Linked DNA regions of Homo sapiens: region 2 is linked to region 1. Evidence: fine-mapped expression QTL. A gene starts in region 1. The other region holds a variant in brackets. All regions are shown on one strand. Distances are from middle to middle.

The links.
Region 2: its variant is fine-mapped to the expression of MAPKBP1 in whole blood (TOPMed, PIP 0.99).

Annotation. Positions count from the first base shown.
Region 1 is chr15:41,772,828-41,775,729 of GRCh38, reverse strand. MAPKBP1 (mitogen-activated protein kinase binding protein 1) reads right to left here and starts at 1,246. Exons shown (of 31, transcript NM_014994.3): 1 at 1,120-1,246; 2 at 341-563. The coding sequence starts at 454. RefSeq lists an enhancer at 1,750-1,799.
Region 2 is chr15:41,848,019-41,850,920 of GRCh38, reverse strand. JMJD7-PLA2G4B (JMJD7-PLA2G4B readthrough) reads right to left here. Exons shown (of 25, transcript NM_005090.4): 25 at 2,778-2,902. It overlaps PLA2G4B (phospholipase A2 group IVB), which reads right to left. Exons shown (of 20, transcript NM_001114633.2): 20 at 2,778-2,902. It overlaps SPTBN5 (spectrin beta, non-erythrocytic 5), which reads left to right. Exons shown (of 68, transcript NM_016642.4): 66 at 1-67; 67 at 962-1,052; 68 at 2,293-2,775. The coding sequence ends at 2,305. Among named protein-coding and RNA genes, the nearest start is that of PLA2G4B, 11 kb to the right of the region's middle. The variant A/G (reference allele first, on the strand shown) is at 1,616.

The sequences.
Region 1 (2,902 bases):
CAAGGTATGTGTTCCTACTGTCCTCTCCCAAGAAGGGAAACTGAGTCATAGCATATCAACTGGCTTCCCAAGCACATGCTTAGTGTATAGTGAGGCCACAATTGAACCCAGGTGGTCTTCCTACTATTCACCTTTTCTCATGGATGAATCTCAGCATGCCCACCCCTGCTGCTCTTTTTCCTTCAACCTAAAACCAAATCATTGCCTGCAGAGATCATATGTGATCCTTTAGAGTCAACAAGGGCTTCTAGTTATCTTTCCCAAGAAACAGGAAGGTTAACGAGGAACATGGAGCAGGAGAGGGTGGGTTTGGAAAGAGGTGGATCCCAACAGGACTCACCTTGGAGCTGAGGTCCTCTCGTCGGTTTCCTGCCTTACTCCTGCGCAGTTTGATGGATGGAGATCTCAACAGATTCTTGATCCGGCTGGTAATGGTTGACCCTTCCACAGCCATTATGACGAGAAACCCTTTGGGACAGTCCCCGGCCCAGTCCTGGGTCTTGTCTCAACAGCGGCACTGTCTTCCCACTCCAGAGGGCTTCCCAGTATGCCCTCTCACTGACCTGAGATGGCAGAAGCCACCTTAGTATCACAGTGTCTTACCTTCTGCCTAGCGAAGTCTGCAGCTTTTACCTCTGGGTATTGCTCTCACCATTTCCCTCATCCCCACCTTCTAGCCCTGCACAGTTTCTTACAACGTCGGAAGGAAAGGCTCACGAAAAAGGGGGGGAAAATCCTAAGCCACGAAGAAATGCCAGGCCCACGCCCGCCAGAGGCGTTTAACTGGCGAGATGGATGGGATGGGCCCCAGTTGGTCTCGTGGACGATCTGGTTCCCGTTAATGCCCAACTGTTCCCATGGCAACTGTAGTGTCCAAGGGAGGAGGCCGCCGAGACCACCAGGGATTTCCGCAGGCCTGGACACCTGCGCTAGCGCCGGCGGGGACGCGGCGGGGCTCGCCGTAGCCCACAACTCGTTCTGCCACGGGAGCCTCCCTCCCCCACTCCCTATCCTCCAGAGCTCGCTCTCCGCCCTCCACAGCGGCTCTGGACCTTTATCTTTCACCCGCCTCTGAGGCCCCTGCTACTCGTCAGCGCCCCCGTTCGGGCCCAGCCTCACCAGCCTCGGCGAGCTAAGGCCACCCCGCTCACAGCGCCCTCGGGCATCGCGTTCGGCAATTTCAGCTCCGCCGCGGTAGCCGCAGCGGTAGAGGCAGCAGCAGGAGCTATGGTGGCACGATCGGCTCAAAACGCGAACTACCGCCTGGGCCAAGCCGCGGGCTGGGTGGGCGGAGCCGACGCGAGGGGCGCGGCCTGTAGTCAGGAGAGCGCTTCCAGAGTGGACGAGCAAGGTTTACGGGGGCGGAGCCAATGAAAGGGCCCAGGAAGCAGACGGCTTGGGACTAGGGAACCACGGAATCCGCACAATTGCGGGTACCGCTTTTAGAGGAAGGTCAACAGAACATGGCTTCAGAATTGAGAGAACCAAGCCTTTTATGGTATTATCAGGCCTGGTCCCCCATGGAACTGCACTTCCCAGAGCCCCAAGACGATAACCACGCCTCCAGGGTGTTAAGGTTGTCATCTGATAGGCCCGAGGGACCGTAGCTGAAACTCCTAGCTCAGAATTACAAGACTGAGCTACAGCCTAAAAGCTCTGCTCCCAGCGACCACAAGTGTTGAGATTTAAAGCGACTGAAGTAGTTTCTGCTCGCAGCCAGTCCGGCACGTAGACTCAACGTGGAAAGGATTATTCTGAGTAATGCAATTTAATAGCTAAGAACAGTATTTTTGCACTGGGCAACCTGGTCATCATGAAAGGGGAAAGGGTGGCCTTGAACAGAGCTTTGGGCGTGCGGGGGAAAGAGAAGTGAATATGCTATGTTATAATACTTTAGGTTTCATGGCTTCTTTAGCCTCCAACATCCCATTGTGCTTCCTCACCTAAAGCTGACCAGGACTTTGTTGCTCCAGATCTTTTCCTCATTCCATTTACTTATGAATCCTTTTATCTAGGGCTGTTCCTTGCTGAGGTCACTGTCGAGCTTGCTGATACTAGATCGAGGGGTAGTTTTCTAACTCATGTCGGGGGAGGCAGAGGGAATACACGGAAATGTTACATGAAATAGTATTTCCTGAGTATTCTCCACTTGACTACTACCACAAGAAATCACCTTATGAAAAAGCCTAAGCCAGAGACTTGGGTCCCAAGGGAATAGTACACTGGTGTGTCCGTCTCACCCTATCCAGATCTTTTGAATCCCTGTGGAGATGACATGTGTCTGCAAGAGGGAAGAACCTCTAACAAATTATTATACCTTATGAAAAAGCCTAAGCCAAAGACAAGGGACCCAAGGGAGTACTACACTGGTGTGTCTGTCTCACCCTATCCAGATCTTTTGAAACCCTGTGGAGATGACATGTGATAACAAGAGGGAAGAACCCCTAAACTCATTGCTTGTGTACAACGGTGAGCCTTTAGAGCCAAGTGGCAAAGCACATATTTTCTTGTGTATACTGTAGCCACGTACTGAAAATTAGATTTGTAAAGCTCACAAGTTGACATGGAGATGATGGATGTCACCTCCTGGAGACCAACTGGCAATAGCACGTGGCCTTCTTCCCTTCAACCATGCACTGCAAATATTATGAAACAGAAAATACGATTTTCAAATTTATTTCCCAAGTCTGGAAGAAGAAGGCAAGAACCATTAGCTACAATATGCAAGAGGTAGTTGGTTCCTTCAACCTCTTGGTAGTTACATGATGGGACCTCTCCATGGGATTGAAAGCTAATAAATGGTGCCACCTGGTGTCTTTACTTGCATGCTGCAGACCACGGCAGATGCCATCTCCACCCATGAAACTAGAGTAAAAATGTGCCCACAAGAGCCGTCCCTAAT
Region 2 (2,902 bases), 75 kb before region 1:
ATCCTGTTTGCAGCACCGTCCGAAGAGCAGGCTGAGAGCTGGTGGCGAGCCCTGGGCAGCACTGCAGGTGGGCTTCAGGGGAAGGATGCGGGGAGGGCGGCCGACTCCCTGGGCCCCAAGCTCCTGGGCCCCTAGTGTTTTATGCATCCTAGGGAGGTTTCACAGTTAGCATCTCTAACCTCCAAGAAGTGGGACTTACTGTTTTTCCTCAAAGAATTTAGGTCCTGGAGAGGTTACGCAACTTGCCCAAGATCACACAGCTAATTAGCAGAGATGGGGCCAGTTTTGAACCCCCAGCTGTGTCCTGGTCCTGTTCTGCCCCTTTTGGAGTCTGCCACTCAGACTGCCCCAAGCCCTTCCTGCCAGAATCCTCATGGACTGTGTTCCTCCAAGGGCTTTCCAGGCTCTGTTCTGTCTGATCTGGGTGCTTCTCTAACCTTCTAGTCCTCAGACAACTTTGAATGTCACCACCCTTGAGTTGTTTTGCAGACAGTAAGCAAGCCAGGTTCTACTTGGAGGAATATATAGAGACAACCCTTTGGACTTTCTTCCGTGGTCAGCGTGCTCTGCTGAGGCTCCGTGTGGACCGTGTGTTCAGGGAATGTGTCTGGGATCCTAGCTCTGTCGCTGGTTCCCCTGGACTCTCCTCCCAAGAGTCTGTCTTCCCAGGAGCCCAAAGGGATCTTGAGTTGTTCGACATTCCAGAATTTCCCACCTCCTAAGAAAGGCTCAGCCTTTCTTAACTCACCTGTGAGGAGTTTCCTAAGAGGCAGGACGCATGGGGGAAAAACCTGCCCACAAGTGCTCAGCCCGCCCCACACCCCCACGTGGGAAGGGCCTGGCATAGCCAGGCTGCCTAAGGCTGTGCTGAGCCTCCAGAAGCTGGAGGAAGGAGCAGCCAGACCTGGCGCCTGCAGATGGTCTGGGCCGGGCTAACAGTGGTTATTCCCTTGCTCTGCAGCCCAGAGTCTGAGCCCAAAACTCAAAGCCAAACCTGTCAGCTCTCTGAATGAGTGCACGACCAAGGATGCCCGGCCTGGATGTCTACTCAGGTGGGACACCTGGGTGGGGGAAGCAGGGCGGGGAGCCCTGGGCTTCAGTGGCTGGCAGGCGCTGTCCTCTGAAGCCTGAGGTTCTGGGCCTCAGACTTACTCTGTTGGGCTGTAGGGAAATGCTATTGGAACCCTCAGCTGCCCCTGCCCACTCTCAGCTGAGAGGAATCCAGGCCACAAAGCCCAGATTTCCACAGACTCTACAGTGGTCCCCTCCCAGGGCTCACTCCAGGCTCTAGTGTGGGGACCCTGTAGACGAAGCTGCCCAGGCTCCCTGTGCCCTTCCTGCTCGGCTGCTTGTGGGAGGAGCAGCCAGGTTTCCCTCTGCCCAGTGCTGAGAGCCTGCCTGGGTTTGTTTCCCATGCACTCCTCACTTTCCTCCCTCCTCTCCCCTCTCCAAGGCACAGCACATTGGCAGGACGGCCAGACCCTGCCCCACCCTTGTTCCAACCCGTTCTCTACCTGGTCCTCCCCTGCTTTCCCCAATCCCCACTCCATGGCAATGGAGAGGTCCAGCATGTCCCGGCCTGCAGGCCAGGGAGGAGATGCGAAGGTGGATGTGC[A/G]GGGGCAGGAGGCTCTTACCTGGCTCCTCAGTCCCTCCTTGTAGATCCCAGCATCATTTCGATGCTCAACCCCCCTCACCCACATCTCCTTCCCTTCCAAACCAGAGGGCTTCAGGCTCTCCAGGGGGAGGGGACACCTGAGGTTAGGTGAAAGTGGAGGAGGGACTGGAGACAGGCAAATCCTCCGTGCATGGGCCCCATGCCAGGATGTGCCTAGATGTGCACACGCATATACAGCCGTGTGCCTGGAGGGCTCATACCATGAGGGGTGGCAGCCACGGCTGTGGTCTCCAGTGTAACCATCTGCTCCCAGTCCTGCAGAGCCCAATATATGATTTAGATGATGTGTTGCTGACGGGACAGGCCTTGTCCTGGACACAGTGGCTCCTGAGGCTACCAGGACAGCCATTTTTTCTGCTGTCTCTAACCCAGGGCTGGGGCTGCTAGGCCAGCTGACAGACGTAGAGTTGGGTTATGAAAGTCGAGGCAACTCCCACCCACTCACGCGTCACTGTGGTCGCTGCTGCAGCGCCTGTCAGTCAGCTCTGGAATCCACTCCCACGCTTATTCTAGGAGGCTGGCTGGTCCAGGGGAGGGCAGGGGCACCAGTGTGTGTTTGTTTGGAGAAGATTCTGGGGTGGCCATACCCTACTAAATTCATTCCGTTTTCCCAACAGGTCTGATCCCTGAGGTGAACCCCAGTGCAACACCAAACTTCAGGGGCACAAGCGAGGACACATCTAAGGGACCAGAATAAGACTCAGCTACAGGCAAAAGGGCTCCTTCCCGTGGCTGCTTCAACCCAGTTCCCCAGGCCCAGCTTCTGGAATAGACAGTTCCTTCTGGTTAGATGGGTCCTACCATGTGGCAGGAAACAGCCATTGCCTGGCCTCCCCCTGCATTCCTGTCTGGGTGAAGAGGAGACGTGTTACGGCAGAGCAGGTGGGCAAGGCCAGGGCTACCCCAGGCCCATGTGGCCTCCTCCTTGCTTGGAAGGGGTGACTCTGAGCACAGGTAGACGCAGACGTGTGCAGAGAATGTGCTCTTCGGAGGAAGAACACTGATGAGCGAGCTCTGTACCAGCCCTTGCCATGTACAGCCAAGAGCCTAGAATGACATGGCCCTTCTCAGCAGTAATAACAGATGGTCTCAGCGCCTCACATTTGTATGAGTCTGTGATGTATCAAGTGCTCCAACTACTCAAGGTAGCGCAGAAGGGAAAACAGGCACAGGCCGGGGGGTTTTGGGTGATTACACAAATGGGCTTGGCCTCCTTACCCCACTGCA